Linked DNA regions of Homo sapiens: region 2 is reported to be linked to region 1. Evidence: microRNA targets listed by miRTarBase, many of them from high-throughput screens and not tested one by one. Region 1 holds a microRNA gene; the other region holds the end of a gene's coding sequence.
What was found. Region 1 holds the annotated microRNA hsa-miR-2467-3p (AGCAGAGGCAGAGAGGCUCAGG, at 1,951-1,972, shown strand). A microRNA usually pairs through its seed, bases 2 to 8, with sites in the 3' UTR of a target mRNA and lowers its output. Matches are read on the target gene's strand: a 7mer-m8 pairs with bases 2 to 8, a 7mer-A1 pairs with bases 2 to 7 and ends in A, and an 8mer does both.

Region 2: the mRNA of IGDCC4 is a reported target of hsa-miR-2467-3p. Seed matches in the 3' UTR shown: 7mer-A1 at 999-1,005, 7mer-m8 at 1,184-1,190 and 7mer-A1 at 1,246-1,252.

Annotation. Positions count from the first base shown.
Region 1 is chr2:239,349,640-239,353,703 of GRCh38, reverse strand. MIR2467 (microRNA 2467) reads left to right here and starts at 1,900; the gene lies at 1,900-1,980. HDAC4 (histone deacetylase 4) reads left to right here. Exons shown (of 27, transcript NM_001378414.1): 2 at 786-1,026. The coding sequence starts at 1,005. RefSeq lists a silencer at 1,044-1,237.
Region 2 is chr15:65,380,373-65,384,436 of GRCh38, reverse strand. IGDCC4 (immunoglobulin superfamily DCC subclass member 4) reads left to right here. Exons shown (of 20, transcript NM_020962.3): 20 at 18-2,953. The coding sequence ends at 428. Among named protein-coding and RNA genes, the nearest start is that of IGDCC3, 4.4 kb to the right of the region's middle.

The DNA of each region.
Region 1 (4,064 bases):
ATGTTGGAGAAACTTCTGGAAGGGGTAAGGAAGGTGTCTCTAGATCAGATATTTTGAACCAGGGGATGATATTATCCCCCAGAGGACCTTTGGCACTCCCTGGAGACATTCTTGGTTGTCATGACCTGGAAGATGCTGCTGGCATCTGGTGTGTGGAGGCCCAGGATCCTGCTAAATATCTTATAATGTGTATGGCAGCCCTACACCCCAACACCTAAATACGCAAACCAAAATCCCAGTGGTACTGAGGCTGAGAAACCCTGCTCTCTGGAGACATTTTTACATGTCTGTGATTTACTAACAAAAATCCCACTGCTCGTATTTGTAGAAATGATTCCGTCGAACTGTTCTATCAGTCCTTGGTCAGAACAAGGATAAAGAAGGAAGTTGGTGGGGCGTGGTGGCTCAAGCCTGTAATCCCAGCACTTTGGGAGGCTGAGGTGGGTGGATCACTTGAGGTCAGGAGTTTGAGACCAGCCTGGGCCAACATGGCAAAACCCCGTTTCTACTAAAAATACAAAAATTAGCTGTGCCTGGTGGCATGCACCTGTGTTCCCAGCTACTCGGGAGGCTGAGGCAGGAGAATTGCTCGAACCCAGGGTTGCAGGGGTGGTGGAGGTTGCAGTGAGCCCAGATCGTGCCACCACACTCCAGCCTGGGCGATAGAGCAAGATTCTGTCTCCAAAAAAAAAGAGGAAGTCATCATTTCCCTAGTTGGATGTTGTTTTCCAGATCGGAACTTCCATGTTGTAACTCCAGTCTCTTTTCTCCTTCTGACCTTGCAGGTTCATCTGCAGAAGCCAGCGGACGCCTCTGTTCAACTTGTGGGTTACCTGGCTCATGAGACCTTGCCGGCGAGGCTCGGCGCTTGAACGTCTGTGACCCAGCCCTCACCGTCCCGGTACTTGTATGTGTTGGTGGGAGTTTGGAGCTCGTTGGAGCTATCGTTTCCGTGGAAATTTTGAGCCATTTCGAATCACTTAAAGGAGTGGACATTGCTAGCAATGAGCTCCCAAAGCCATCCAGGTAAGGCCGGGTCATTTCTTCTCTGGGCACACAGCGGGGCTTTCTTTGCCCAAAGTAGAAGTTCTTGTGACTGCAGCTTGCTTTCTGGATTTGAGACTTTTGTTTTTCTTGATAGTGGTCACTGTTGGTTTTTGACAGCACAAAGTGCAAAATGGATGGTTTATTCTTCCTCTTGGTGAAAGAAGAATGATAAAACCTGGGAGGATGTGGAGTCAAGTCTGCGACCCCGGTTTGCAGGCTGACTTGAGAGGCACACAGGTTTCCTCGATGCTTTTTGACAAGGGTGATGTTGAAAGGTCAGGTTGTGATGTGGAGAGCTGGTTTCTTGCCCAGTGTCTTTGTTGTTTCATGAGGGGTTGTGTGAGGGGTGGGAGTGCTCCTCCAACTGGGCGTCTGGGCTGTCTGGGAAGAAGCTCATGTTCCCACTGAGGTCGTGGCCACAGTTGCTCCTGGTGTTTGAGGGCCTCTGTGAGGGGCTGCACTAAGCATTTTACAAGCATTTAGTACAGCCCCAGATCATCTCAGGCCTGGAGGGAAGAAGTAATTTGCCTGAGGTCACAGAGCTGGTAGGTGGGGGACCCACATGATTGGGAAGCAAGCTTGTCCTGCTCTGAGCTTCAGAAGCATGTCATGGGCCCATCCATTTACGACTTCACACTTTCTGTCCTTGGAAAGTCACCGAGAGCGTGCACCATAATGAAACCTCGAGGCCTGCCGCCGACCTGCCTGAGTGTGGGGCTCCTGCAGAGCCAGTCCTGTGCTGCCCAGCTTCCTGCCACTTCCAGCGCACCGTGGCCTTCAAGGGCACTTAGCCATCGACTTCTGTCTTGCGTCCACATGAGAGAGAAGACGGTGGCCACTGGACAGACGCTTGGACAGGCACCTGAGGCTCTGTTAGCCTTGGCTCTGGGTCCTGCTCCTTAGAGCAGAGGCAGAGAGGCTCAGGGTCTGTCTGGGTCACTCTCTTTGAGATTGCCGGAACGCTTACACACATCTTTCCCTGGGTGGAATCGTCTTTGTCTGAAAATTCCAGAGGGCAAGATTCCAGGTTTTTTTAGATATGAAAGTTTTATTGAGTTAAATTGTTTATGTATTGACTGATGTAAAGAAATGGTTTATGATCATTCCAAGACAAAATTAAGCGCTATGGCTCAAAGTGTCTAAATAGACATTGAATGGAGCTGGCTCTCTCCCTCCTACACTGGGCTGCTGTTGGGTGAGAGTGTATCTTTTTTCTGTGTCTAAACATAGTGTGATGTGTGTGAGCATTTTCATAGAGTATAATTCTATAGGCAGGGCCCTGTGTTTTACATTCTGTCCATTTTAATGTGTTATAAGCATCTTTTGGTATCAGTATGTGTGCAAATATAACTTGCTCTTTTGATACCTTGCGAATGGATATTTATGTGGTTGTAGCAGTGTTTATACCAATTCCAAATTGGCATCAAACAATTATTATACATATATTTTGTAAACTTCTAAGTATCACTACTAGACAAATTCCAGGAAGTGGAAGCTGGGTCAGTGAGCCCGTGCACTTAAAACATCATTAGGTTGACTGTCAAATTGCTCCAGAAGCCTCGTTCCAACTGATCTTCCTAATTCCAGTGTAAGAGGATGCATATTTTTCATTTGTGCTGTACCAGCACTGGGTAGGTTCAGTCTCTCTCATTTTTGTCAGTGTGCTATGGGAAAATTATTGTTTGAGTACACTTGATTATTTTAATGGGGGTGCATATTTTTGTATGACTTGGTGTACACATAATCATAATTTGTACATGCTCTGCAGGCATTTGAAGAGAAAGTATGCTCTTAGGATTTTGTTTCAGTCTAAAGACGTCTGTATGTATGTATCAATATTGTATTTAAAGTTCTCGGCCGGGCGCAGAGGCCCACAGCTGTAATCCCAGCACTTCGGAAGGTCAGGGTGGGCAGATCACAAGGTCAAGAGATTGAGACCATTCTGACCAACATAGTGAAACCCCATCTCTACTAAAAATACAAAAATTAGCTGGGCGTGGTGGCGTGTGCCTGTAGTCCCAGCTACCCAGGAGGCTCAGGCAGGATAATCGCTTGAACCTGGGAGGCAGAGGTTGCAGTGAGCTGAGATTGCGCCACTGTACTTCAGCCTGGCGACAGAGCAAGACTCCGTCTCAAAAAAAAAAGTTCTCTCATTTATATATATTTTATTTATATATAGGAGGATATGTATCCTTTCTTTATATGTTGTTTTAATTATATATTAACTCAGTTGAGTTATTTAAATCAGTATAGCTTTACTTATTTTTTTCTGTCTGCTCGATTTCTTGGAAAAGTGTATTTTTCTACTGTGATTATAGTCTTATAATATTCTTTTTACATTAATAACCATTTTTTGCTTTATATAGTTCAGTGTTTTTTTTTAAAGCTTAAAAATTAATGACTGTTCTTTTGGTAGATCAGGTCTCTTATCAAAATATAATATATTTCTCTTTGTTTAATGTTTCTTTGACCGAGAGCTTATAGTGTTTCATGAGGTATTTCTACCCTTGGTTTCTTTTGGCTAACAAATATTTCTCCATCCGCTTGTCTCTAACCTTTTCAGGCCGGGTTCTTTGAGGCTCAGCTCTGGAAACCGCGGGGTGCTGGGTTTGTTTGGCCTTTTCTGTGGGAATTTCAGCCGCTGCGGTTCAGTTTGATCACCGGCCTGCCCGGGCCTGTCCTGCCCATGTGAGTTGGGTTGTGTGCGCCTTATTGCCACCCACGACCTCTCCATTCTCTCTCTCAGTGGGTTGGAGGCTGAAGACAGGCCGCACTGGTGAGGGCAGGGCTGCCCCTTGGCCCAGCCCATTCTCTGCTCTCCATCTGTGCAGGGGGTACAGCTGAGGTGGTTTGCCTGGGGCCTGAAGTCTGCTGGCTGCCTCCTCTGCCCTGTCCGCTGTCATCTTTCCCTGCCGTGTCTGCCCTTCCGCCCGGAGGTCCCTTGGGAGGCAGGACCCCTTGTGCCCAACACGTGCATACCACCACCTGCACACACTGGCTGGTGGCCCAGCGGCCTC
Region 2 (4,064 bases), not on the chromosome of region 1:
TTCTCTGCTCTGATCAGGGCAATGGGAGGAAGAAGTCACCCCCAGCCTGCAGGAACCAGGTGGAGGCTGAAGTCATTGTCCACTCTGACTTTAGTGCATCTAACGGGAACCCTGACCTCCATCTCCAAGACCTGGAGCCTGAGGACCCCCTGCCTCCAGAGGCTCCTGATCTCATCTCGGGTGTTGGGGATCCAGGGCAGGGGGCAGCCTGGCTGGACAGGGAGTTGGGAGGGTGTGAGCTGGCAGCCCCCGGGCCAGACAGACTTACCTGCTTGCCAGAGGCAGCCAGTGCTTCCTGCTCCTACCCGGACCTCCAGCCAGGCGAGGTGCTAGAGGAGACCCCTGGAGATAGCTGCCAGCTCAAATCCCCCTGCCCTCTAGGAGCCAGCCCAGGCCTGCCCAGATCCCCGGTCTCCTCCTCTGCCTAGCTCTTCCCAGAGGATGTGGTTTGGGGCAGGCAGGTATGGATCACATAGGATGCGATACCTGTGGCCGTGTATGTCCACATGTGTGCCTGTAGATACATCATCAAGCCCTTTGGAGCTTCCTAAGTTGCTTTGGCTGAGGGGAGAGGAAAACATGGATTATTCACTCCCCCCATACTCTTTGTGATACACATGTGACATGTGAAAGACATACGAGACATAGCTACATGTGATGTGCACATGTGTGAAGTGCATGTATGCGTACTGGTTGTTGAGCTGGGAAACCGTGGCCCAGGCAGTGGTCACTACAGCCTGATTGGTCCTCCAGGTCAGAACGGTGCCCCACAGTGGTCAGTCCCCAGCCCTGTGGGCCCCCACCTCCATCGCCCAGCCTTTTATTACACACTCTGAGAGTGTCTCCAATGCCTGTCTGACAAAGACAGTCCCAGCCCATTCTCCTGTCTGGCTGGGTTGGGTGCAAGCAGGCTCTGAATGCCTGGCATTTCAGCTGCATCACCTCCCAGCTCCTTATTGCCCAAATAGAGAGGGTGGCCCTGGCTCCCCTCCGAGCAACTCTGCATTTAATTTTGTAATCTGGGAAGTGCCTGGTTTTGAAAATCCGCTTTCTCTCACTCTTCCCCTCCTTCCTTGCCCCTGGCTGCTCTAGTGTTCTGTCTCCCAGTCACCTCGCTCTCCCAGCACCAGTGCCCTTCTCCTGCTCCCAGATACTCTTTCCTTTCCTCTCTCCTGTTTTCCTTCCTCTGCTATCTCTCACACCTCTCCCAGACTATGTCATCTTGTTCTCCTGCCTGGGTTCAAACTCTGCATCCTTCTCTAACAACGTGACTACCTCATGTCTGCTTCAAGGCCCCCGTGCCCTTCCTGTATCCGCGGCTGCCGCGCACTCGCCTGCCATCCTCCTGCCTCCTCTTCACTCAGTGCTTCTGCTTGCCCTGCCCCAGGCAGCCCACCCACGCCCAGTGCGGGTGTGGAGAAGATCTTCTGGCTTCCCTGCATCTTGCCTTTGGGATTGGGATCCAAGGGTTCTCCATGGATGGATCCAAGTCATAGAGGGGAATGTTTGAGACAGGGAAGGGGGCTGTGATCCAGAGGCTCAGAATAAAAAGATGCCCTCCCTTCTATGCAGGGGGGCAAGTTTACTGGATGGAGATGATTTGGGCCTCTCTTCCAGAAGAAGCTAAAGGAAGAGAAGGGGAGTGAGAGTTCAGGGAGGCCCTTCCCACCCTGTGAGGCTTGACTTGATCTGGATTGGGGATGACAGGAATCTCACCCTCTGGGGTGCTGGCAAGGAGGTCTTTGCACAGGAAAAGGGGTAGCTCATTTCAGTTTGTTTTTTCTTTAAATTGAATCCTCAAGTCATTTTCTGTTCACCTGCCGCACAGGGACAAGCTTGACTTCTATTTTCTGTGTAGTGAAAACAATGTCATTTATTTGGTTTTTCACCTCAGCCCTCTCATAGGAGCATAGAATGTTAGGGTCTTTACTCCCTAATGATGTCTGATTGGCACATCAAGAGTTAACTCTGCCTTCTGGGCCAAATTCGAAATAACCAGTCCATTTTTCCTTTTTTTTTTTTTTTTTTTTAAATGGTGGAATGTCTCTCAGCACAGTTGCGGCTTCCTCAAACCCTGAAAGCATCTGTGTTTATTATACTCGGGTGTCACTCACTGTTGATGTCTGCACCTACGTTTCCACCTCCTCCCCCTCCTTCAGCCAGCCTATGATAACACTAAAGATTATTAATGTTGGTTTTGTATCTCGTTAAAGACAGAATTGTCACTTGTAGTATTTCTGTAGCATTCAGCGCTGCTGTGGCTAACACCACTGTGTATGTTTCATCATTGCTCTGAAGGTCAAAAGCCTCATTTTATTTTGCTGGTTTGATTTTTTTTTTTTAAAGAAGAAAAAAAAACTGCCCTGAATTAAATGGCTGTTTTAACAGTAGGCTCTTAGCATTATACCACATAGTCATTTTTCATGTTCTTGTTTAACAGGCACTGAGGTTCTGGTTTAAATTAAATAGCTGCAAATGAGACAATTTATAACCCATTAGGTTGGGTGGAAAATTGTTTCTCAAAAGCAAATAAGTAATAAATCTGGTATCTGCCTATAACTCACAGTTGATAAGAAAGTGGCCATTTCTCACTAGCACTATATATGATTTGGGCTCTGGGTAATTTGGAAGTGTTAGGTTTGTGTCTTTGTAGCAGTATTTTTATTAGAAAAGAATCTATTGGCCTTTTACAGGGTATTAATCCCTTTGTCACCTACCATTGATGCCTTAAGTTTTCTGAGTCTCAATTAAAAATCTTCCTTTTCTTGATGCATGACAAGTGTAATCAGTACTTGCTCATTTATTTGTCTGTATTTAGTTTATGCTGTACTATTTAATTATCCTTCCAGCGTTTTTTTTTTCTCCTTACAAATATGATACTCTTTAGTGTTAAGCTAAGGCATTGATTCATGTATCTGTCCTTATAATGAATTAATAAACTATTTTCCAGAAATGTGGAATTCTCTTTTGGAACCATTGACCATGACTAGAATTTCCTCAGCCTTTGTGCCCTAGGGATTTTATTTCTTACTGTGATGGGAAATGATGTTGTTGTTGTTTTTGAGATGGGATCTCTCTGTCGCCCAGGCTGGAGTGCAGTGGCACAATCACAGCTCACTGCAGACTCAACTTCCTGGGTTCAAGCAGTCTTGTCACTGTAGCCTCCCTAGTAGCTGGGACTACAGGCACATGCCACCATGCCTGGCTAATATTAAAAAAAATTTTTGTTATAGAGATGTGGTCTCGTTATCTTACCCAGACTGGTCTCGAACTCCTGGGCTAAAACCATCCTCCTGCCCCAGCTTCGAAAAGTGCTCGATTACAAGCATGAGCCACTGCCTCTTGGCCCAAAATAGTGTTTTGTTTGTTTGTTTGTTTGTTTGTTTGTTTTTTCAGACTAATCTCACTTTGTCGCCTAGGCTGGAGTGCAGTGGCATGATCTCGGCTCACTGCAACCTCTGCCTCCCGGGTTCAAGTGATTCTCCTGCCTCAGCCCCCCGAATAGCTGGGATTACAGGCATGCACCACCACACCCGGCTAATTTTTGTATTTTTAGTAGAGACGGGGTTTCACCATGTTAGCCAGGCTGGTCTCAAACTCCTGACCTCAGGTAATCTGCCCGCCTTGGCCTCCCAAAGTGCTGGAATTACAGGCATAAGCCCCTGCGCCCGGCTCAAAATGGTGGTTTTTGAGGGTAAAAAGCAGGTGGTCATGGGAAAGAACTAAACCATCTTCCTCCCTCAACAGGCACTTAGGAAAAAGACGTAAACTTAGGAAAGATGTGTCCTTTGATGGCACTTCCTTAGACTCTCTGGGGATCTCTTTCCATCTGGGCACACATTTCTCTGAACTTTTTTGGGTGCAGGAAAGAGGGAACAACTCCAGAGATTTGGGCTCCACAACTATTCTCCTGTATAACTCTGGTCACCAAAATTACTCATGGCCACACAATCACACACACGTGCACTGTGTGTACAAGCTCAGAGACCCGCACATGCATACTTTGCCTTCACAAACACCCTTGTGTCTGTCCGTTAATGCAAATGTGCACACAGTCTCACACA